Regions from separate parts of the Homo sapiens genome. Here region 2 is reported to be linked to region 1. The links are microRNA targets in miRTarBase. Many come from high-throughput screens and were not tested one by one. Region 1 holds a microRNA gene; the other region holds the end of a gene's coding sequence.
The links. Region 1 holds the annotated microRNA hsa-miR-563 (AGGUUGACAUACGUUUCCC, at 2,356-2,374, shown strand). A microRNA usually pairs through its seed, bases 2 to 8, with sites in the 3' UTR of a target mRNA and lowers its output. Matches are read on the target gene's strand: a 7mer-m8 pairs with bases 2 to 8, a 7mer-A1 pairs with bases 2 to 7 and ends in A, and an 8mer does both.

Region 2: the mRNA of TMEM67 is a reported target of hsa-miR-563. Seed matches in the 3' UTR shown: 7mer-A1 at 1,974-1,980.

Annotation. Positions count from the first base shown.
Region 1 is chr3:15,871,467-15,875,873 of GRCh38, forward strand. MIR563 (microRNA 563) reads left to right here and starts at 2,305; the gene lies at 2,305-2,383. It overlaps LOC107986064 (a long non-coding RNA gene), which reads left to right. Exons shown (of 10, transcript XR_007095831.1): 2 at 2,521-2,645.
Region 2 is chr8:93,815,962-93,820,368 of GRCh38, forward strand. TMEM67 (transmembrane protein 67) reads left to right here. Exons shown (of 28, transcript NM_153704.6): 28 at 411-2,160. The coding sequence ends at 491. Among named protein-coding and RNA genes, the nearest start is that of TMEM67, 63 kb to the left of the region's middle.

The DNA.
Region 1 (4,407 bases):
TTCCAAGGGGTTTTGTTAAAATTAAGGACAGCAGTGATTTGGAGTAGTAGGGAGAGAGATGAAAAGCCTAAGGGAAGTTGTTTTTGTCTTTTAAGATGGGAGATATTATATGTATAGACTGAGGAGTAATTGAAAGGTAAAAGGGGGAAAAGTTGGTGATGCAAGAGAGAGTAGATACCTGCAGGCACAAAGTCCTTGAGAAGGCAGGAGGGAATGAGATGTAGTTCAGAAGCAAAGTATGTCAGGAACTCTGAAGGGTCTGAGATTTTACTGTATTTGTAAGCTAACAAGTTAGCCTGCCACTATTTCATGGAGGCTCAGCAAATGGGAAACTCCTGGGTCAAAGACAAAGGCTTTGATTTCTCACACCACCAGTTCCCTACACCCCAGTTCCCCAGATCAATGTGAAGAGGGCCAGATGACACCCGCATATGCATTGAGTTGCATTACAAGTGAGGAACTCTGAACTTAGGGAACCCGAATCTTTTATATTGGGCAATAAAGGTGTGTGCCCTTTGCTCTAGAGACATTGTTTTTATTATTTTGAGCAGTAAACATTCTTGCTGTTTGTTCCAGAGGGAGACACTATCTCTATCTTCCAAGGCTATGAAACATTCAATCCTTGATTACATAGTCTGGAACAAGGAAATTTAAGAGACTCTTAGAGAATTGTCTCTCAACAGAGTTTAGCCTTTAGTAAGAGCTTGGACACCTCATCCATTTTAAATGGTAGAGGGTGAGGGGTGGGGAAGATAGATTATTGGAAAAGATTCTAGTACCTCTTTTTTGCTTACTTTTATTTTTTTCCCTAGCAAATCAATAGATGAAGGTATCAGGTAAAATTTAGGAGTGGGCATCAAGAGTATATGGTTTAAAGAGAGATAGAGCTGCCTAGAAGAGAAGGAGAGGGTTGGCCAAGGAAATGTAGAATTATTGGGTACTGCTGAAGACACTCCTATAGTGTGTGATCATAAATTTAACCAGTCAACACAATTGCGATTGTTTTATCCAGGTTCATTTCATGCTTAAGTGCAGGGAAAGGTCACGCAGAGAGTTGGCTTTAACCAAGATTGGAGTTTTTTTTTAGGACAGTATGATGGAGAAAGAATGTGGTAAGGGCCTTAGGGGCTGTACACTGACAAACCCTTAATTAGTATGAATACAGTCATGGACCATGGAATCTAGGCTGGATAAAAAGGACAGTGAGGAAAGGAAGCCCCATGAAAAATTGATGAGGCCAAAGGATCAGAGTTCCTGCTAGGATTAAAGAAGAGTTAGAGTGTATTAGAATAAGTGAACTAGGAAGATAGAAGGAGGTAGTCAAATAATGGAATGCCTAAAATCAAGGTTTTAGAGTAATAGTATATGAGCATGGGAGTGGGTAGCTAAGGTGGGGTGGAGAAAAAGATCATTAGAGATGAGGAGTCAAGAAACTGAATGACCAGAGTGTCAGATGTATCATTTAGTGCTTGTTGAAGTCACCAAGAATAACAAGTCACAGTGGAGAGACAGGGACCTGTATGCTAAAATTTTGAATGAATGAGAGGAAATGACTGAAAGGTCAGTAGATGATTGCAACATAGAGGGGTGGCAGGTGCCATTGACTGATGGCAAACTATTCCTTTATTTAATAAATATTTATTTACATATGGCCAACTAATTACTGTGGGGAGAACAACTTACCACATCCTCAAGGATTACATGCTAATTGGAAGATAATATACTCCTCCATCAAAAACGAAACAGTAAGGCAAACATTGCAGTATGGTGAGGCAGAAATACCACTTGCCTAAGGGTCAGAAAATCCGATTTCTATTATAAGTTCCAGCTTTGTCAGTAATTAGCTGTGAGCCTGGGTAAATCAGTTAACCTCATTAGGCCTCAGTTTCCACATTTGGATACAGATGAGATGATTCTCAAGCTTCTGCAGGGCATAACATTTCATAATTCTATGAAATAAAATAATAGCTATTTCACACGGAAATTGGGGAGAATAAATAAGCACGACTGTCCAGATTTTACAGACAGAAGAACATGAACCACAAAGGACTACATAATTTGTCCAGCATCAGAATGTAAAGTCAGGTTCATTGTTGTTTGTGTTAGATCATATAATGCAGAGCAGATGGCCTAATCTGTGTTGGTGTTTGTCCACTTTCCTAAATTTTTGTTTGTCTTTCCGTTATCTCTATTTGGTTCTAGCTAGGTCATGATTGCTTATGTCAAAGAAACAAAGAAAATACGACAAGAATCTGTAACTGTAACAATGTTGTTTAACACAACTTTGAATACATTTTTACAGGAAGCAAAGAAGTGTGTTGCCCTCTAGGAAATGTGTGTTGCTCTGATGTAATTAGGTTGACATACGTTTCCCTGGTAGCCAATATAAGGAATGGGTCCACTAACCCTTGATATCAGAAAATTCTGGGGTTGGATTAGATGTCAAGGTTGGGAAGGATATTATTTGGGTAAAGGGGTTCATTAACAGTTTTTCCACTATAATGAATTTTTCCTTTATAGCTGTGATGTTACTCCTACATTTTTGAATATGTACAAGCATATTCAGTGATGCTTTGAGATCCAACTGTATGCTGGGTACTACTACTGTAAGGACTAGTGGCTTTGTGGAGAGCAAGAGAGCTAAGGTATGCGTCCTATCTCCTTTTGTTAATATATACTGAATGGCAAAGATAGACATAAACAAGAAAATGAATAAATAAGATATTTTTTCAGAGCATGATCAACATTATGAAGAATATAAAACAGAGTAACAAGATGTCTCTTACCATGTTTTGCATTCCCCGCATTTAGAAAATAAGTACCACAAGAGTTAGGACCTTGTCTGTTATATTTATCAATTATCCACTGTGCCTTGGTTAGTGAGTTTTGGCTGTGGACTTCTTTAGGTAGGACAGTCAGAAAAGGTATCTGTAAGATGCCCTGAGAGCTGAGAAGTAGAAAATAAGGAATTTTCAGCCAAAGATCTGGGGAAGAGCAATGTAAAATTCCCAAGGAAGCAACAAATTCAGCATGTTTAAGAAACATAAGGAAGGTCAGTGTGGCTGGAAAGTTGTAAGGGTAGAAGTTTGAATTTTAATTTAATTACTGTGATAAGCCACTATAGGTTTTTTTTTCCTTTCTTTCTTTTCTGGTCATGTTTTCTTCCTCTAATTTTATTTCCTTTTTTCTCTAAAGAATTTTAGTCAGGGATTTTAAATGACCTTATTTTTATCTTTAAAAGTTTACCCAGACAGTTTTGTAGGGAATAGAGTGAGAATAGCATGAGAAGAAGCAAGAGATCAGTTAGGAGATGAGTGTTGATAATGGGCTGGTGCAGGGGAAGAAGTATTGAGCAGTAATTGAGTTTGAGATATATTCTAGTAGGCTGTGTGTGGTGGTGCTTTGGGAGGCCCAGGTGGGAGGATAACTTGAGGCTAGGAGTTTGAGAGATACATTCAAAAGATAGAACAAACAGGATCGTTCAGCTGTTGTTCTTCAACTGTTGTTCGACAGCTGATTGATTGGATACGGAGTGAGAGAAAAAACAAGAAAGACTCCATTGCTTTGGTCTGAGTAATTTGGTGGTAGTAGTGCCACTAACAGGGAAACTGGGAGAGGAGCAGAGTTTTTCTAGGGAAAATCAAGCAGTTGGTTTTGTCCATGTGAAGCTTACAGTGCCTGTTAGATCTCCAAATGGATATGTAGATAAAATGGTTGATATATGAGTATGGCAAGATGTCAGAACTGAAGATATTATCCTCCTGTGAGTCATTGGCATTTAGATGCTATGTAAAGCTACAAGACTGAGTGAGCTCATCAAGGGAGAGCATGTTGATATGAGCAGCAAGGACTAAGCCTTGAATATTTTTGCCTTTGAAAAATACAGTATTCTATAGACTAGAAGTACATTATTTACCAGGCAAATCAGCCAGTTTTAAAAACCCACTTTGTCTTCCTCTCTCAGCAAGTAGTGGGAGGCCATCTTAGAAGGAAGCTATCCTGGTGAGAAGCTCTAATCACACAGCAGCCCCTGGGACTTGCCAGTATGTCATCAGATACACAAAGAAAGATTCTGGTTCCACTATGCCTCTCTCTCATCCTAAGTCTTCCCTGACTCTCCCAGGCCACAGTGATCCCTCCTTCTCCTAACTCTTCTTCCTCGTTACTTTCTGGACCTTTGCAGACTTTCTTCCTGGTGGTGTAGCTACTTATGCAGAGCAGATGCTCTAATATGTGTCTGTTTATCTCTATTTATACAAAGTTTGTATTTGTCTTCTTGTTATCTCTAACTAGGCAATGATTGCCTATCACCCCCGCTTTCAACAACATTATAATTTCCTCAAGGACAGGATATTCTTACATGTCTTTCTATCCCTTATCATGTTCTGTATTTCCCCATTTGGAATG
Region 2 (4,407 bases), not on the chromosome of region 1:
TCTCCACTATGTCAAAGAAGTATATATAAGTAAGATGCAATTTATTAGTCCTTGACAGTGATCTAGAATTGTGAAGAAATTCTATCTCTAGTGAGTAGATTCTTTTGATGTTTCCGTAGTTTTAGACTTAGAAGAAAGTTGCCTTTCTATATATTTTAAAGTGTATTTCTGTGAACATGAGAGAATTTGTATTATTAATTCATAAGAATTTACTCTAAATGGGAACATACTATGAAACTATGAAAGAAATTATCATCTTGAAATAATTTTATGTATCACTATGGGATTCAGATACCTGATACATGAAAATAGTTGAGAGAATTAGCTAATTTAATCTAGATATTTTAATCGACGTGCATATTTAATTCTGTTTATATTTCTTTTCATTCTGAATTGTTTTAATTTTCCAGATTTTTAGATATATCCGTAATACAGTAGGACAAAAGAATTTGGCATCCAAAACATTGGTGGATCAAAGATTTTTGATTTAACTTCCTGAATAAATAACTTAAAGACTCAGTATAATCATGGCCAAAAAAAAGTCATGATATCAGGTTAGTTTGCCATATTTTTTAAAACTTATAATGCAGACTATTCTGTTTTTGTTTTTTATTTGCAGAAAGATTTATTTTTATAACTTGGGAATATATAACCTGATATAATAGAAAATACTGTTTTCCCATTGTGTGTAGTATTTAATGCAGTAAATAATAAATTAATACTGACAGTGAGGCCAAAAAAAATCTAAATGTTGCTTTCAGCATAATACTTTTTAATGCTAATTAAAACAGTCCCCATCATTTGTCTCTGTAGATTATTTTATAAACTGAGAGCTGCCTGAATCTTCTCACATTGACAAAGTAATTTGATTCCAAGTTTAAGACTAGTTTTCAGTTTGATATTTTCATGTTTTGTGTGCTTATGGTTAAATAAATGTTGAAAGATATTTTCAAGTTTACTTAGAAATTTTAAATTGTATTATTGCTGATTCAATTTGCATCATTCTAATTGCTCATCCTCTTTGGCAGTGGATTAATTCACTGTTGGGTTAATATGCATCTCATGAAATGATATCTTTTCATTCCTTTGTATACCTGTATTAGGTCAGTATACGCTTTCCATGAAATATATTTGCATTTCTAATATAGTTTACATTTATTAAGTTATAACGTATGACATTTTTCCCAATATCATTTTTTATACATTTTAATTACTTAATGTTTTAAGAGTTCTCTTCCAGAGTTTTGCTTTTCAATTACGTTTAAAGACTGTAAATAACAAACAGTAAGGCTGGGCGCTGTGGCTTACGCCTGTAATCCCAGCACTTTGGAAGGCCAAGGCACGTGGATCACTTTAGGTCAGGAGTTCAAGAACAGCCTGGCCAACATGGAAAACCCCATCTCTACAAAAAATACAAAAATTAGTTGGATGTGGTGGCCTGTAATCCCAGCTATTTGGGAGGCTGAGGCATGAGAATAGCTTGAAACCAGGAGGTGGAGGCTGTAGTGAGCCAGATAGCACCACTGCACTCCAGCCAGGATGACAGAGCAAGACCCTGTCTCAGAAAAAACAAAAACAAAACACTGTAAATGTATCATGTTTCTCACTGCTTTCTATGTTAATGCTGTGTAAATACTTAAAATGGAATACTGTATAAATATTATTTATATTTTCTCAGATGAAAATATATACTAAAACATTTGGTATTTCTGTTTTCTGTTTCATTAATGTATATCTGATGGAGTACCATTTAGGAATATAACATTATTGGGGCAGAGGTCCCAGCCATTGCCAAAGTTGAATCTTTTACATTTCCCTGAATCTTGAGGATGACTGAAAAGGAAGTCTTTGAAACTGCAGTTTCTGAAGGATCACAGTACAGGAATGCCTTTATAAAAGCTGCAGAGATAAATACATGTACTTATATGGCATGGATATTTAAAACCACTCACTCAGAAGCATATGAAAGAAATTCAACCATCATTCAACATAGAAGAAGTTAATTTTAGTGCAAAAGTTTTTAAGTATTAAATTTCACAATAAAGGATCAATTGGCTTACTTGCTGATAAATTAAAACAGAAAACATTTAAAATCATTCTAAATTTTGTATGATATTTTTATTTTGGCTAGGTGCATAAAAATGTGTTCAGATTTTCATACACTGTCGACTCCTTTGTTCACATTGTCACAATTTACATTTCCTGATCATGTGCATAATTATTCACTAGATTCATTACCCTTTGTCTATTTCTGTAGTACCCAATCACTATACTTTGACTCTTATATCCCTGATTTTACTGATTTTCTAGAAACATTTGATTTCTCTTCATTTCATAATGAAACAAAACCTAGAGAGGTTCTTTATAAGCTGTTGTGTACTTTGGATGCTCCTTAGAAACATACAGGCCCCTAAAATACTTCTGTAGACCAGTGCCTCTGTTATGGGAGATTTGTAAATGCTTCCTTCTCTGGCATTGCTGTCCTAACTGCCTTTTCAGAAGGCTTTGCTGATGACCTACATTGAGGAACATTCAAAATGATCATTAACTCAGCACTTACAAGCATGAAGCATGTGTTTTTTTTGTAAATATTGACAAATATAAGCTGAGGGGAAATAACTGTAAGTCAAGGAGCAGTGAGGAGTGTGGCTTAATGGAAAGTGCTCCAAATTTAGCAAAAGAAGCCCTGGATTCAAATTAGAATTTTGCCCATCACTCATAAGCTTTGGTATCTTGAACTAAGTCATTTGCCATCATTGAGCTTCATTCTACATCTCTGCAATGAAAATAATATCCTTTGCTTACCACTTGTTGTAAGGATTAGTTTCGTGGGTGTGTGTGTGTGAGACAGAGAGAGAGAGATGGGGTCTCACTCTTATCACCCAGGTTGGAATGCAGTGGCACGATTTTGGCCCACTCTAACCTCTGCCTCCTAGGCTCAAGCAGTCCTCCACCTCAGCCTCCCAAGTAGCTGGAACAACAGGTGTGCACCACCATGCCCAGCTAATTTTTTGTATTTTTTTTGTAGAGACAAGGGTTCACCATGTTGCCCAGGCTAGTCTTGAACTCCTGATCGAGAGATTCACCCACCTCGGCCTCCAAAAGTGCTGGGATTACAGGTGTCAGCCACTACACATGGCCAGGATTAGTTTCTTAGAATGTGCTTTTAACATTGAGTAAACTATGAATGCTGGAATTTTTATTTTTAGTTTAAAATATCTGCCCCAAAATATATTTTTTTCTTGCTAATAAATTAATAATATGATATTAAAACTCAGATTACTGATCTCAATAACTGACCAATGAAAATTCTGAGCCTGCCTTCTTCCTCAGCCACCCCCAGCTCTGCCAGGAAGAGGCCCAGATAGAGGTCACCGATAGATGTAAAACATAAAAGAAGACAACACCCCTGTGGGAGACACAGTTTGTGATAGAGGGTGGAGAGAACAGGAAGAGTGGAGTATTGTCTCTGGGAGGGAGGGTTTTTTTCATTTGCTCATTCATTCCAACAATGTTTCTACCTCTTCCCACTCCCCAGCCCCTCAGAAGGGTCTTATAATTTGTAAGAGAAAGAGGTAAATTAACCAGTAATTACAGCAATATGAAACGTGCTGCAGTACCGGGGTGTGATATAAGGAAAGCTCTTAACTGTACTTCTGGGTCATCAGGGCTTTGACCTCAGAGAAGTGGATTTGATCTAAGATTTTAAGATAAACAAAAAAAAACAAGTGCAACCAAAGCATGGAACAGTATGTGCTCAGAGACAAAGCAGCACATGGCAGTTTGGGGCACTACGGGCAGTTTGAATCAGAGTACATGTACTGTTTATATTTTAAAAGTTGTCTGTATAAGATGTTTTGTCATTTTAAGAAACCTTCCCTTCTGGGGAGTGATTGTCCCTCCTGGGGCTCCCCAGTTCTTTTAGACAGCAAAGAACTCAGGTGGGAGCATACCTTTGATATACAAACTATAGACCTGAGCCACACCTCCTCTGTCTGGCCCTGAAACCCTAGGAGGCAATGTTCCTCTTCCTTAAATCATCCCAGGACCAGGTAACGGGCAACTAGGGATAGTCTCTGTAGTTTAGAGCACACTGAAATTATTCCAACGAGCCGATCCCAAACTGTTGACCCCACCCTGCCTTGCCATTTCCTCAGAAACTCCAGTAAGCACCCAGGCTCTGCCCTGGCTCCTGGTGCTCCTGCCTCCTGACTGGTGCTTTCCCCCATGGCTGTGCATGGTGTGCCGTGCCATCTGTTTCTAGGACCTGTGAGTGTAAGAAACTTTCCTGTCTCCCCTTGTCATTCCTCACTCATCACTACATAAAAGGACACAGAACAGTATGTTTGGGGGCTTTGGAGGGCAATGAGGTTGGAAAGGAAAACAGGAGTCACATCATTAAAGGTT